2 separate regions of the Homo sapiens genome follow, and region 2 is linked to region 1. Evidence: fine-mapped expression QTL. Tissue or cell type: whole blood. Region 1 holds a variant in brackets; the other region holds the start of a gene. All regions are shown on one strand. Distances are from middle to middle.

Region 1 (8,104 bases):
CCACGGTTCAGCACCCAACCCCCACTTGAACTCTGCAGTTTCCCAGTTTCATTAAGAAGCCCATTGTTGAGTCTGGCCATGCGTCAAGGACACGTGGACTCTTGGGGCAACCCCGTTTCTCCAGCATCCTCCCAGGTGATGGGTTGGTGTGGCCAGGAGCCAACAGGAAGGGTGTGGGCCAGAGGGGAGAGGCTTCCTAGCAGCTGGCTGCCCTGGAGCTCCGGGAAGGTTTGACCATCAGGTTTACTGCACCAGGAATATATCCTTCAGTTTCCCCCAGCCAATCTGTAGAATAAGGAGAAATGGAGAGTGTAGGAAGATAACTGCAGTGTGGACACAGCCTCAGGTTTCTTCTTCGGTAAAGCTGATGTTTATTACACAGGGGCATAGTAAGTGAAGCATGCACTTCATTTTTCATTTTTCCTAGAATCCAGTGCTGCTAAAAAAAAAAAAAAAAAGGACAACTGTTTACTCACTGAAGAGCAAATATATACGTTGTTGGATGAGGAAGAAAAAGTTCCGTTGGGACGGGGCGTGGTGGTTCACACCTGTAATCCCAGCACTGTGGGAGGCTGAGACAGGAGGATTGCTTGAGCCCAAAAGTTCGAGTCCAGACTGGGCAAGATGGCGAAACCCCGTCCCTCCAAAAAATACAAATATTAGCTGGGCGTGGTGGTGTGCACCTAGTCCCAGCTACTTGAGAGGCTGAGGTGGGAGGATCGTTTGAGCCTGGGAGGCAGAGGTTACAGGGAGCAGGAGGTTACAGTGAGATGAGATTGCGTCACTGCACTCCAGCCTGGGCGACAGCAAGACCCCGTCTCAGAAAAAAGAAAAAGTTCCATTGCTCCCCACCACCCAAATGAATGCCACCTAAAACAGCTCCTGAATGGCTGGGGGCCAGAGTGGCGGGTTTTGGGAGAAACAAACCACAGCTGCCAGTTATGAGGCACCAGCTGCACCACATCGTTTCATTAGATCCCCCGCGATGCCATGAGGCAGGAGCTCTTCAACTCACTTTCCACATGAGGAAAATAAGGTTTCGGGAAGTTAAGAAACTTGTTTCTGCCACACACATCTTACCTTCTGATTTGATTTTGTGAGAAAAGCCTGGTTTGTTTGTTTGTTTGTTTGTTTTTGCCTGAGCATGGTGCACATTTCAATCTGGAATGAAGGAGTATAGTGAGGGGGAGGTGCGGCGCACCTCAGCTGTGCAGGTGTGTGGTGTTACTTAAAGCACACCATAGCGGCTACTGGGAAGCCTGGGTCCCAGCCCTGTTGCTAAGCTGCTGCTTGACCTGGAGTAGCTCCCTTTTCCCAGCGTGCCTCAGTTTCCTCATGGGAAAGCTCACTACCAGCTGAAGGTGAGTGGACTGGGGATGGAGAGGAGGGGACAGAGCTGGGGTGCAGGCCGGCAGACGGGTGGAGTGTGGGAGAGGCTGAGATGGGGAGAGTCCGGGGAGCAATGGGGTTCCAAGGAGGGGGCTGAGTCCTGGCCTGGGGAAGTCAGGTTCAAGGCGCTGGCGTCCCAGCTGATCCCTGGACCTGAACAGGGACCTGTTCCCTGTCCTGCTTGGAAGTCCCATCCTGGGTGTGGGCAGCCAGAGAAAGGAAGCGTTCTCCCAGTGCTGCCATGGGCTGCAGCCCTACCCTGCTGGGCTGAGTTCTGTGTTTAATGGAGGGAGGAGGAGGAGAGGGGTGAAGAGCTGGGCCTTCTGGTAGCTTTTTATAATTATTTCTAAAATGCTATATTTGGATATTATTTTCTGCTTCTACAAATAAAACATGCATATTGTAAAAAAATTCAAACATAACAAAAATCTGAAATTGCTGGAAATGCTTTCCCAGGGCTGCTCCCTAGAACAAACTATTAATTATTAGGTGCTCATTGTACATGCTTTTTTACTCCTTTATTTTCCTTTTTTTTTGGTAACATATGAACATGTTTATGTTGGACAATATAGAAGTATTTGAATCCAAATATCAGAGTTCCTCTTCCACTCCTTTCAACCTCCTGGTATGGCAGGCCAGGCCTCAGGAACGCGGGCCTCCGTAACAACTATTTCAGTACTGACTGGTGAAGTTAAATATTAAAAGCTGGTAGAGCCAGTGTCCTTACACAAAAGCTGGAATGTAACAAAACCCCACCCAGAGTTTCGCCTAGGCCTTTCCTGGGCCTTAAAGCATGACAAAATAACGAAGGCATTCTTAACAAAACCTGTTTAGGATTAAACAAACAAGTTTTATTGGGGGGTCTGAAGAAACTCCCCAGGCCTCCACGAACAAGTTTATTGGAGGTTGGAAGGAACTCCCCAAACCTCTGTGATTTAGTAGGAGACAAGATAAGGGTAATCACTGCAGCACCTGGACCCATTTAGATTAAGTCAATTTACTGAGGCTCCAGAGGAAGGTCTTCAGGACTCAGACCTTAGTTATAGATTAGAAGTTAATCACTTATGTCTTTAGATAAATGCACACTTACACGTACACATAGAGCTTAGAAGGTATATAAGCTCTGGAATACTTTGAAATTTTGAGTTGGTCTGGCGATAATTTCCAGGCCTTCTCCCTGCACCTGGTTACAGAAATAGAAATTCTCTTCTTTCCCAGTTTATCTGCATCTTGATATGGGGCCACGAGAATAAGCAGCTCGTCCCTCGGTGTGGTCCGGGAGCACTGGCACTAAGCACTGGGCAGTGGGAGGGCAGCTTCTGGGCAGTGCCCCCCAGCCTGCTCCCTCCTGCCACTCCACCTCCCAGGCAGGTCCTCCCACCTCCCCAGGGGTGTGGTGGGGAGGGCTGGGGAGGCCTCAGCACTCCACTGACTCATCAACCCTTCTGTCCTTTGATGGGTAGGATGGGGTGAACGCTAATGCCAGCAGACCTGGTTTCATAATATCTTAGTGTGTTCTGCATGTGTGATCCAGCCCCTCCCTTGGGATGCAGGGGAACTATGCATCTTTTATGTATTCTCAGACTTTGAGGTCTCAGCTGAATTGGAGACAGAAATAATCCCATCTTAATGTCCAGTCACATAACTATATCATCACTTATTTAACTGGCTTTCACTGATGGACATTAGGTTGTTGTGTGAGTGTGCATGCAATACACATCACACCCATGTGTGAGCTCCTGTGCTAGTATTAATATTATAAACAATGCCTCTCATCATGCCACCTGACTTCAAACTATACTATAGAGCAGCAGTAACCAAAACAGCATGGTACTGGTACAAAAACTGACACATAGACCAAT[G/A]GCACAGGATAGCCTAGAAATAAGGCCACGCACCTACAACCATCTGATCTTTGACAAACCTGACAAAAACAAGCAATGGGGAAAGGACTCCCTGTTCAAAGTGGTGCTGGGATAACTGGCTAGCCATATGCACAAGATTGAAACCAGACCCCTTCCTTATATCATATACAAAAATTAACTCAAGATGGATTAAAAACTTAAACATAAAACCCAAAACTATAAAAACCCTGGAACACAACCTAGGCAATACCATTCCAGACATAGAAACTGGCAAATATTTCATGACGAAGAAGCCAAAAGCAATTGCAACAAAAGCAAAAATTGACAAATGGAATCTAAAGAGCTTCTGCCCAGGAAAAGAAACTATCAACAGAGTAAACATGCAACCTACAGAATGTGAGAAAAATTTTACAAACTAGGCATCTGACAAAGGTCTAATATCCAGCATCTATAAGGAACTTAAATTTATAAGAAAAAGACAACCCCATTAAAAAGTGGGCAAAGGATATGAACAGACACTTTTCAAAAGAAGACATACATGTGGCCAAGAATCATATGAAAAAAAATCAACATCACTGATCATTAAAGAAACTGAAATAAAAAACATGATAAGACACCATCTCACACCAGTCAGAATGGCTGTTAAAAAGCCAAAAAAGAACAGAAGCTGGCAAGGTTGAAGAGAAAAGTGAATGCTTTTACACTGTTGGTGGGAGTGTAAATTAGTTCAACCATTGTGGAAGACAGTGTGGTGAGTCTTCAAAGACCTAAAAACAGAAATACAATTCGACCCAGCAATCCTATTACTGGGTATATACTCAAAGGAATACAAATTGTTCTATTATAAAGACACATGCACACATACGTTCATTGCAGCACTATTCACAATCGGAAAGACACGGAATCAACCCAAATGCCCATCAGTGGTAGATGGATAGAGAAAATGTGGTACCTATACACCATGGAATACTATGCAGCCATCAAAAAGAATGAGATTATATCCTTTGCAGGAACATGGATGGAACTGAAGGCCATTATCTTTAGCACACTAATGCAGGAACAGAAAATCAAATACCTCATGTTCTCACTTATAAGTGGGAGCTAAATGATGAGGACACATAGAGGGGAACAACACACACTGGGGCCTGTCAGGATGTGAAGGGTGGGAGGAGGGAGAGGGTCAGGAAAAATAACTAATAGATACAAGACTTAATGTCTGGGTGACAAAATAATCTGTACAACAAACCCCCATGACACAAGTTTACCTATATAACAAACCTGCACGTGTACCCCTGAACTTAAAATAAGTTAAAAAACAAAAATGCCTCAGGCATTGTAGTTGCCAATTCTCATAAGCAATTGTCACTTTGGCCTTCCTAGACCTCTAACCAGTCTCCAAACAAGTTCCCCTGCCCTGCTCTTCAAACTAGAAGTTGAGCACTGGGCCTACCCAATGTATGTCACAGGGCTCCGAAAGCATCACATTTACTTAAACCTTCTGGTGTAACGGGGATGTAATGTAATTATTATGTACTTAAGAGAGGATAAATTGGCTGGGCATTTCTCCATTGTAGTGAGCTATTTGCTGTTGGTGCCAAACCTGCAGGCCCTGCAGAGTCCATTCACAGTCATTCCCCTCTGCCCTCAGGGATATTTTGATAGGAAATCTTGAAACGTATTCTCTGTAGTAGGCAGCATCCAAGATGGCCCCAGGGATCCCAGCCTCTTGATATCCACACCCTTAGGCAGTCCCTTCCCACAGTGCACCAGGATTGGCCTGTGCGACCAAAGAATATAGCAAAGGGATGGCAAGTCACTTCCACAATTAGGTTATAAGGTTACTATAGGTTATAAAAGGCTTCAAAGCTGAGTGCCATGGCGTGTGCCTGTAATCCTAGCTACCTAGGAGGATGAGGTGGGAAGATCCCTTAGCCCAGGAGTTTGAGACCAGCCTGGATAACATAGAGCCTCATCTTAAAAAAAAAAAAAAAAAAAAAGACTCCACTGGGCGCGGTGGCTCACGCCTGTAATCCCAGCACTTTGGGAGGCCAAGGCAGGTGGATCACCTGAGGTCAGGAGTTCAAGACCAGCCTGGCCCACATGGTGAAACCCCGTCTCTACTAAACATACAAAAATTAGCTGGGCATGCTGGCAGGTGCCTGTGATCCCAGCTACTCAGGAGGCTGAGGCAGGAGAATCACTTGAACCCAGGAGGCGGAGGTTGCAGTGAGTTGAGATTGCACCACTGCACTCCAGCCTGGGTGACAGAGCGAAGACCCTGTCTCAAAAAAAAAAAAAAAAAGGTTTCTCTGGCTGGGTATGGTGGCTCACACCTGTAATCCCAGCACTTTGGGAGGCCGAGGCAGGTGGATGACTTGAGGTCAGGAGTTCAAGACCAGCCTGGCCAATGTGGTGAAACCCTGTCTCTACTAAAAATACAAAAATTAGCCGGGCATGATGGTGCACACTTGTAATCCCAGCTACTCAGGAGGCTGAGGCAGGAGAATTGCTTGAACCAGGGAGGCAGAGGTTGCAGTGAGCTGAGATCATGCCAGTGCACTCCAGCCTGGGTGACAAGAATGAAACTTGGTCTCAAAAAAAAAAAAAAAAAAAAAAAAGACTTGTGCTCTCTATCTTTATTGGATAATTTGCCTTGAGGAATGGGGATGGTTACTGGTAGGCAATGAAAAATGTTCATTAGACAAAATGTCTAGATTTGTAAACCCAAGAACTTAGTCCGGAAGACAATATTGCTTCTTTTGATTTAGAAGAAACTGAATGCTCTAGAGGGCAAAATAATCGATTTTTCATTCAGTGCTGAGTTTCAACCACGTATCATTAATACGTGAATGATTCCAGGACCTTCTCTCCAGACCTTTGGAGGTGTCTTCACACAGGAAAGCTGTTGGTTAATGAGCCTGCCATGTGGGTATACCGTAGTTGGCACTTTCATTCTCACTCAGTTATTTGCGTCCCTTTGATCCTGCGAAGTATCTTCGTATCCCCACATGCTAGATGAGGAAATGATGCCTGAAGAGGTTACACAAATGACCCATGGACACGCTGCTAATTAGTGGCACGTCTCTGGTGTTAATAAGGATTCTCAACGAATTGGAGTTATGTTACCAAGTCAAAACATGGGGAACTGGCTGGGCGCGGTGGCTCACCCCTGTAATCCTAGCACTTTGGGAGGATGAGGCGGGCAGATTGCTAGAGCTCAGGAGTTTGAGGCCAACCTGAGCAACATAATGAGACCTCTTGTCTCTACAAAAAATTTAAAAAATTAGCCGGGAGTGGTGGCACAAACCTGTGGTTCCAGCTACTTGGGAGGCTGAAGTGGGACAATGACTTGAGCCTAGGAGCAAGACCCTGTCTCAAAAATAAAAACCAAAACTTGGGGAATTCGTCCTAAGGATCCACGGGTGTCTCATGGAGCTTGAGAGCTGAGGTCCAGGTAGGACACGACCAGGGACCATTGGTCATGCTCCATCGGGGTGCTCTGCTTCCCTCTCTGCTCCTCTCCGTCTCTGCTCTGTTCTTCTCTTTTCCTGCAGTCAGGCTCTCTCTGCTCCTCTAGGCCTTGCGGCAGGAAAAGGTGGCCACTACGGTTACTGGTTTTTTTTGTTTTGTTTTTTTCCTGGTTTTTTTTTTTTTTGAGATAGAGTCTCGCTCTGTCACCCAGGCTGGAGTGCAGTGGTGCGATCTCAGCTCACTGCAACCTCTGCCACCCAGGTTCAAGCGATTCTCCTGCCTCAGCCTCCCGAGTAGCTGGGACTACAGGTGCCTGCCACCACGCCCAGCTAATTTTTGTTATTTTTAGTAGAGACGGGGTTTCGCCATGTTGGCCAGGCTGATCTCGATCTCCTGGCCTCAGCCTCCCAAAGTGCTGCGATTACAGGCCTGAGCCACCACGCCTGGCCATCACTGTTCTTTTCTTCCTCCCTCAGTTCCAAAATCCTAGAGAAGGCACACCCATGGGCACAGGGGGCACGTCATGTCATACAAAATGGACGCTGACCTGGCCCCACTCCCGAGGGCCTCAGCGGATAGAGTCATTATGAGCTGCGCCGATAGCCCGGAAGCGGAACTAGCGTTGCAGATCAGCAGCAGGGAGCGAGCCCCTGTGAGGTCGGCCAGGGACTTCCTACGGGTGGATTGCTGTGACAGCAGCTTTGTGCCTACAACTTCTGCCAGCTTCCTGCTTTTTCTCTCATCACAGCCATTTTGTCCAAGCAGCCCCTACGGCTACTTATTGTGCAATTCACCGAGTGCACTGAGGAGCTTCAAGAAATAGCTGCCTGGGCCTGGGTTTCCGTCCACATCTTTGTGAGATGAGACTCTGGGGCTGCCTGGGCCTGAGCTTCCGTCCACATCTTTGTGAGATGAGACTCTGGGGCATTTCCCTCCAGCATGGCCTTTGGTTCCAAGTCAGGTTTGGGTGGTAGATTCCTAGGAAGAGTCTCGATGAGCCAGTCCCTGTGGGACAGGCGATGCCCTCTCTGGACAATGGGCCCCATGGACCCTGGACGGTCGAGGAGCTGATGTCATCTGAGTTCTGTGCACGGGCCAGGGCTTGTTGCTGGTTGCAGTTTCTGTGTGCGTGCGGTATGTCGGGGTGGCTGTCAACTCTGTCTGGATTAATAATGACTGACTTGAACCTAATTCATTAGATACACAAGACCAGGAAGGTGGTTCACCCAGAATTGGGCAAGTCATGGGAGCCGCGGCAGCCTTCCTCTGGCCTGTCTCTGCCAGGCCTCCGCAGTGCATCACTCAGAGCTGAGAGGAGCCCTGCCCAGCTCAGCAGGCCCAGGGTCCTGAAGAAGGTGTTGTTGGCCCAAGGCCCCCAGGCA
Region 2 (8,104 bases), 180 kb before region 1:
CAGATGGATGCACCTGTCCAAGCACCCGAGTCTAGAGGAGGCAACTCAAAGGTGTGGAGAGGAGCCCAGAAAGATTAGGAATTTATCCCAAAGAAACTGAAGTAGATGTGAGTTTCCTTGAGTGTGATCTCAATCTTAAAAAAAAAAAAAAATCCTCTAAGCCAGGTGCAGTGGCACTCACCTGTAGTCCCAGCTACTTGGGAGGCAGAGGCAGGACAATCATCTGACCCAGGAATTCAAGGCTGCAGTGAGCTACTGTACTCCAGCCTGGGCACCATAGCAAGACACCATCGCTAAAAAAATTATCTAAGATAAGTATTATTATCTTCATTTTACAGATGAGAAAACAGACATGGAGAAACCCGAGCACCCAAACCAGAGCCACAGTCTCTGTGGGCAGCAGAGCTAGAAACTGAACTTGGGCCACAGGACTTCAAACCCATGTTCCACACTCTTAACAATTACCAAGTTTTTGTTGTTGTTGTTTTTTGTTTTTTTTTTTAGACAGGGGCTTGCTCTGTTGCCCAGGCTAAAGTACAGTGGCACAATCATAGCTCACTACAGCCTCGACCTCCCAGGATCAAATGATTCTCCATCTCAGCCTCCTGAGGAGCTGGGACCACAGGCATGTGCCACCACACCTGGCTAATTTTTGTAATTTTTTTTTTTTAATTTTGTGAGACACAGGGTCCCTCTATATTGTCCAGGCTCGTCTCAAACTCCTGTTCTCAAGCGATTCACCTGCCCTGGCTTCCCAAAGTGCTAGGATTACAGGTGTGAGCCACCACGCCCAGCCTGCAGAGTATTCAGATTGTCATTTATATCTGAACGTGTTTTGATTTTGCCTTTCAGTGCTGTAAGAGGGATTTTTTTTATTTTCTAGATGATTCAAAAATTTTTAGCCAATCTTTTGTTATTTAGTTTTAGTTTTATTACATTGTGCTCAGAAAATGTGACTGAATTTTTTCTACTTTCAGGAATTTATTACAGCTTAGTTTAAGACCTAACATTTGGTCAATTTTTGTATTTATTCCATACAAATTTGAAAATAATGTTATCGGGCCGGGAGTGTTGGCTCACGCCTGTAAACCCAGCATTTTGGGAGGCCGAGGCGGGTGGATCACCTGAGATCGGGAGTTTGAGACCAGCCTGGCCAACATGGAGAAATCCCGTTTCTACTAAAAACACAAAAATTAGCTGGATGTGGTGGCACATGCCTGTAATCCCAGCTACTGGGGTCAAGGGGAGGGCACTGAGGCAGCAGAATTGCTTGAACCTGGGAGGTGGAGGTTGCAGTGAGCCAAGATCAAGACACTGTACTCCAGCCTGGGCAACAGAGGGAGACTGCATCTCAAAAAGAAAAAAGAAAATAATGTTATCAAGTATGAATGGTATTAATACAAATTAAAAGGCAGATATTGTCAGACAGGATTTAAAAAAAAGACCTAACTGCATCTTGTCAACTATAAGATGTCTATTTTAAATATAAAGAAACGGTTAAAAGTTAAAAGATGGAGTAGTGGTGGCTGGGCGGGGTGGCTCACGCCTCTAATCCCAACACTTTGGGAGGCCAACGTGGGTAGATCACTTGAGTTCAAGGCCAGCCTGGCCAATATGGTGAAACCCCGTCTCTACTAAAAATACAAAAAATTAGCTGGGCATGGCGGCACATGCCTGTAATCCCAGCTACTTGGGAGGCTGAGGCAGGAGAATTGCTTGAACCCAGGAGGTGGAGGTTGCAGTGATCCGAGATCGCACCACTGCACCCCAGCCTATGAGACAGAGCGAGACTGTCTCAAAACACACACACACACACACACACACACACACACAAAGACAATACATTGGGTCAATCACTCTTCTTTGTGTCTGACCTTTGTGGCCATTTGTCTCTTGTGTCTGATGCCTGGACAGCGACTCCCTCTCCAACTAGCCCACGGCCCTTGGTCGGGGTTGACTTTGGCACTGCCCTAACACCCTCCATTCAGCACCCTGTTCCTTCATGTGCCTGCTGCTAAGGTTATGAATTTCTAAGTTAGGAAATGCATCCACTCTCAGCCCCTCTCACCTCCAGTCCTCAGACCTCAAGGTGTCAGTGAAACATGGTGGTCCCAGATGGGCTTCCCTCTGCGTGCAGTGAGCAGCCCGCTGAGCCTCACTGTCTCCACCCACGGCCTTAAAGTTTTTGTTATGTGAAATACAGCCTTCTAGAGATTCTAGGGGCAACATGGAATTCTTCCTACTGTGTTTATTTGATTATTTCAATAGGCATTTGTTGACAAAATGGGAGAGGGAATTGAATAGAGGGGGTTAGATCCCCACCTAGCACCAGGAGTCCCTTTTGTTTGTTTATAGAGATGGGAGGGGGGGTCTCACTATATTGCCTCAGGCTGGTCTTGAACTCCTGGGCTCAAGAATCCTCCCACCTCCGCCTCCTGAAGTGCTGGGATTACAGGCGTGAGCCACCGCACCCAGCCCCAGGAGTCCCTTTTGAATCAGGGTTGGGCACCAATTTGACCCATACTGAATACTTTAGGTGACTGTAACACAATGGTAAAAATTTGCATATATAAACAGATGTAAACATAGAAACATAGTAAAAATATGGTATCATAATCTCTTGGGACTACCACAGTATATGTGGTCTGGCATTGACTGAAATGTCATTACTCATGACGGTACTAAAATACAGTAGGTGTATTTGCCTGACATGGGGAAAGGAATAGAGAGCACAGTGCCCAGCCATCGCCCTGCGGGACATTCGTAAGCCGTTGGTATTACAAATTCTAGCCTTATCATCAGTGGGTCAGCTCACTTCAGTGCCCATTCATTGAAAAGCCTTAAAATTCGCTTCCTTCATTTGGGGTGTACTGAGCCCCTTCCCCAGAAAGGAGCGCTTGCGGGAAGTCTGGCACAGGTGACTAGGGCTGTGCGGTCAAGTAAGTGCACTTCTCCCACGGGGCAGGGGCCATGGGTGGGACCACATCTCCCCAGTACCTGGTGTGTGCTGCTCCCAGGGTCAGGGCACCTGGCAGTTGGAAAGACCGGCCGACCCCGAGGGATGGGCAGCACTGGAATGGTGGCTCCAGGGCCAGCACTCCCGGAGGAGGGACCGCCTGAGGAAAGGCAGGGAGGTGGGAAATCCCAGAACATGTTTGGGGAATGACAAGACATCTAGTTTGACTGGAGTATGGGGAAAAGGTGGGGCGTTGGGGAGACAGGTCTGGGGCCAGACTGCAGGGGTGGGAATTGGCTTGGTCTGGGAGGCAATGAGGGGCGAGTGGACGGGTCAGAGGCGGCGGCGCTTCCACCCCGACTGGCATTAGAGGGCGTGTCCTAGGAGAGGAGCATCCCCCTCCCCGGACCAGCCGCCCTCCGGAGCCCAGAGTCACCGGAGATGGGGGCACACCCCGGGGCTGCGTGTGTCGTGTCAGGCCGCGGCAGGGAGAGGCCGTCCCCTGGTGGCGCCGGCCGGAACGCCCCTCGTGCCGCGACCGCGCGCCCCTCTGTCCTCGCCGCGCGTCGGCGCAGAGCAGCCACCCGGGGCCCAGCAGGCGCGGGCTTCCCCACGCGCCCCGGGAAGGGACAGCTCGGTGTGGGGTCCGGGAGGCTTGAGCCCCGCGGCCGCATCCGGGGAGCCCTCGGCAGTCGCGGAGCTGCTTCCCAGGGGTGAGCTCTCCGGGAGGCCCACGGGGTGGCCCCGGGCGCCTCCGCCCTCAGCTGTCGCTCCTTATAAGGCGGGGGCCGGGCGGCGCCGGAGGAGGGGCCGCGGCATCAGCCCGGTCCTGGGCTCTGGGGCGGCGCTGGGCCGGGCGAGCGCAGTGCAGCGCAGCCGCGGGGAGCGAGGAGCGCGCGGAGCCGGCCATGGGCAAGTCAGGTGAGCCCGCGGGCTCGCCCGCTGCGGAATGGTTCGGAACCCCGCGCTCCCGGACCTCGCCGTCTCCCTCGTCCGCCGCAAGCCAGGTCCTGGGGAGTGCGGGAGCCCGGGGTGCGGGTGGAGGGCGCGCGGGCGGAGCGCCCCGGCGCGGTTTCCGGGGAACCCGGGGGGAAGGCGAGCCCGAGGGAGGCCCCCGCCGGAGAGCCGGGGATCGCGCCAAGTTGGGCTTCCCGACCCTGAGGGGCTGCGCGCCGCGGCCCGCCAAGGCGTGGCTTCTGCTTTGTTTCAGGAGGCCAGACTTAGAGTTGGAAAAGTCACCAAAGTGTGACAACAGCTCTCGCTGCGAAGCAGTTTGCCCCGCTCGGCTGTCCCGAGGACAGCCCTGAGCATCCCCCTCATCCATTTGTTGTTCCTTCTCTCCTGAGCGCCCGCGCCGTGCCGGGCTCCCCCTGTGCTAGGCTCGGTCTGGCTCCCTTTCTCCTGGGGCACCCCATCCTCTCTACTGTGGCTGTCGGGATGAACTTTCTGCAGCGCAGCTCTCCTCCTGTCGCTCCCTAACACCTTCCTCACCATTGTCCTCAGAGTGAAAGGACACACTCCAGTCCTGCCTTCGGGCCCCTGGGAGTGGGTCCCTAGCCCTTACCTCCGCCCTACACTAGAGCTGTCCAGAAGCTGGTGCACAGGTCCCTTCCCCTAGGTTTCCTTGCCGGGCCTTCACCACCCCAACTCTCAGCCTGAAAATCCCATCCCTCTAGGCTCAGCTCCTGGGCTGGAGCCCATCTGTGATTCCCCCCGGGAGGGAGCGCCCAACCTGGTGTTTTCCTCGCTGCAGCCCTTCCTGTAGTGGGCCGGGGACAAGAGTTCAGCCATAGACCTGTTTCCCACCGGGTCCTCACCCCTGGCTGCCAGGGGCCGTGTTTATCTCAGCATTGCTTCTGCCTCACAGGAGGCTCTTAGAGAACAGCTGTTGAACAGGATTCAGAAGTCCTGCTTCATCCGGATTGTCCACTTCAGATGAGTAAGGCTAGGTCCCTTCTAGGATCTGTCCTCCAAGATCTGGACTCAGGAGATGCCAGCGCTGGGCGCAAGTGGCTTTCCCTGGCCTTGGTCCTAACCAGCCTTCCTAGGCTGTAGAGGCAGGTCTGGCTTTCAGCCCTGGCCCAGCCAATCACTGGCTGTGTGATACTGAGCAAGCCTCCTTCCCTCTGTTCCTCCCTGTCTGTACAATGAGGGTGGCCGTATGAGCCCTGGGGTTCTTCACAGTATGGAAAGGTGATATAATGGGTTGCCATTTAGTTAACAGGATGACAGATGGTGATGGAGCAAAAGTATGGCAGATGAGAGCGAGTCTTTCGAGATATCTGCTTGGGAAATCAACTCCTTTCTCTGTAGAAATTTGTGGAGAAAATCCACAAATTCCCTTAGGCTACTTTTTTTTTTTCTTTCTTTCTGAGACGTGGTCTCCTTCTGTTGCCCAGGCTGGAGTGCAGTGGTGCGATCTCGGCTCACTGCAACCTCCGCCTCCCAGGTTCAAGTCATTCTCCTGCCTCAGCCTCCTGAGTAGCTGGGATTACAGGTGTGCGCCACCACGCCCAGCTAACTTTTGTATTTTTAGTAGAGACAGGGTTTCACCGTGTTGGTCAGGCTGGTCTTGAACTCCTGACCTCATGATCTGCCTGCCTCAGCCTCCCAAAGTGCTAGGATTACAGGTGCGCCCAGCCTAGGCTACACCTTAATCAGTTGTTTCTGGCATCTTATGTAAGGCACGGTTTTCCAGAACTGCTCATATTCAGCTGTGTGCCCATTCTTCTGTCTGTTCGCCCCTTCCTCCTTCCCTCCCTTGCACTGTCTAGCAGCTCTGTATCAAGCTGTGGACCCAGTGCCGGGGCGTGCATCCACTTGGATTGTGAAAGGAATACATAAAGCTATGTAGGGGATAGACAGGCACTATCTGGCTCGAGTAAGAGGTGGAAAATGATCCAAACCACAAGACAGGTGCTGGTGAAGGGTGGTGGGAGCTCAAGGTGAGGAGACTGCTCCGCGTGGGAGCCGACGAGGGTTCCTGGAGGAGATGGTCAAATCCCAGAGGGTCTTGGGAATTTAGACTTCATCTTATGGAACCTGGGGTGCCATGGAAAGGCACTGATCTGAAAGCAGCGTAACTAGAGCGTTGCCAGGGTGTAGGGTAGATCGGATGGATGGAGAGAAGGTGGAGGGAGGATAGGGGAGACTGCCGCAGTCACAAACAGGAGATGACAGAGGCATCCAGGGCAGGGTGGAGGCTGGAGAGGAGGATGGGATGGATTTGTGAGATGGTGGCCTTGGGCAGACTTGGTGACAACTTATTGTGAAGCAGAGGGAAGGGTCAGAGGCCTGCACGATGGGATGATGGCTTCCATGCCTGGAGATGCAGGGTTGGGCAGGTTTCAGAGGAAGATTACTTCTCACTCAGGAGAGGAGGGGGCCAGTGGCAGAAAGCAGGTTAGAACTGGTTGAGTCAGAGGCCACCTCCACCCCTAACACACACACACACACCCAGGGACCTTGCAGAATTCTGACCCAGGCCTTTCTCCCTCATAGTCACGTGCATTTAATTTAACTCCCCCACCCCAACCGGAAAACCGAGAGCCCCCAGAATAGTATTAATATCTGGCTCTCCTAGGGTCCCTAAAAGAAAATGACTTTTCTGGGTGACCCCGTGCCCAGTGGTCCTTCAACTCAAGCTCAACCTTGAAGTTCCAGGCCGTCAGCCCAGGGCTGCTGTCTGTGTCTATAGGGCAGGTGGCACTCACAGGGGCTCTGTGTGCTTCTGTAAAGACCATCATAAGGAATCTGTCCCTGCCCCTTCTGGGCCTCAGTTTCCTCCTCACTGCACAGGAGCCAGTCTCTTTTTCATCTTTAACCTCAGATACACCCCAGAGCTGCTTGGCATAACAGGCGTTATTGTAAAATCATCACACAGCTGGCACAGTTGAAATTCCAGAAGACGCTTGGCCTAGTGATCGAAGACTCCCAGATCCTGCTCCCAGCTGTGGTTTCTCTGCTGGGACTTGGTGTGCAGCAAGTGTGGTGGGGAAGAGAAAGGCAATGACCTTGGGCTCAGTGGAAGCCTCCTGTCCCTAATACTGGTGACACCAATGATTAATCTTCAACTGCATGCCAGGCAAAGAGCTCAGTATTTTCTATGTTACCATATTAGTGACAGCACTGCCAGGCAGTTATTATCAACTCATTCTATAGATTTACAGAGGTTGAGTACCTTGCCCAAGCTCACACACTGACAGGTAAGCAAGCCAGTGAATTTGAACTCAGCTCTCTGACTCCCCTACTGTGTCCTGTCCTCTCTCCCACACTGACCACTTGCCCTGACACCCTGCTCCCTGCCAGCCTGAACTCTAGGCCACTGGGGACTTCCACACACCCTCTCATCAGCTCTAAGAATATTAGTGTCCCTCCATCCACCTAGCACCAGAGGAAATCAGAGCAGAGAGGCCTTTAGGGACCAACGAGCCCAGGAGTTTTCTACTGAGTGGGACCCTCAGGCCTCTGCAGGGAGAAGCTGTGTGGGCCAGGCCAACCCCAGCAGTTTCATTTTCATCTGTTGCTTTTATTGAAGGTTTCCTTCAAAGGAAGGGTTTCCCTGCTTTGAAGATATTATGAAAACCACAGATGTCATCCTTCCTTCACACACAGATGGGAAACCTGGGGCCCAGAGGGGTAGGGATGTGCCTGAGTGACAGTAGGCAGGCAGGGCTGGAAAATGGCTGCCTCCCCTTCAATTACAACCACTGTCTATGGAGAGGGACAGCCTAGGGGAGGCTGATGCTTGGGGGAAGGGGGTGCCTTGTTCCCGTAAGCAATTGAGCAACTCGTCATAGACATCATTCTTGCCATTTGGAAAAGAGGAAGCAATTCGTAAAGTGGAAAGTGTGGGAGATTTGGAGCAGGGGAGGGGGTAAAGGGAGGGGCATTCTTACACCCGGCTCTAATGTGGGCTCTGTGTGGTCTTGGACAATGCGCATGCCCCCCACCATCCAAACACCCCAGTTTCCTCATCTGTAATGAAGAGAGGAATCCTGTCCCGCCTTCGCTGTGCTGGAGTGAGAACCTCATTCATTTGTTCACTCACTCATTCACTTAGCAAATATCCAAGCTCAGAGGGACTGAAAAAGGCCATCAAACGTCAATGTAAAGGCAGGGCAGGAGGGGACCTGACCCGGAAGGAGC

What was found. PIP is the estimated chance that this variant, and not a neighbour inherited with it, causes the effect.
Region 2: it holds the start of GLIPR2, and the variant in region 1 is fine-mapped to the expression of GLIPR2 in whole blood (TOPMed, PIP above 0.99).

Annotation. Positions count from the first base shown.
Region 1 is chr9:36,317,866-36,325,969 of GRCh38, forward strand. It overlaps LOC102724322 (a long non-coding RNA gene), which reads left to right. Exons shown (of 5, transcript XR_001746660.2): 5 at 1-600. Among named protein-coding and RNA genes, the nearest start is that of GNE, 63 kb to the left of the region's middle. The variant G/A (reference allele first, on the strand shown) is at 3,252.
Region 2 is chr9:36,132,915-36,141,018 of GRCh38, forward strand. GLIPR2 (GLI pathogenesis related 2) reads left to right here and starts at 3,819. Exons shown (of 5, transcript NM_022343.4): 1 at 3,819-3,877. The coding sequence starts at 3,865. RefSeq lists silencers at 3,471-4,040, 4,071-4,120.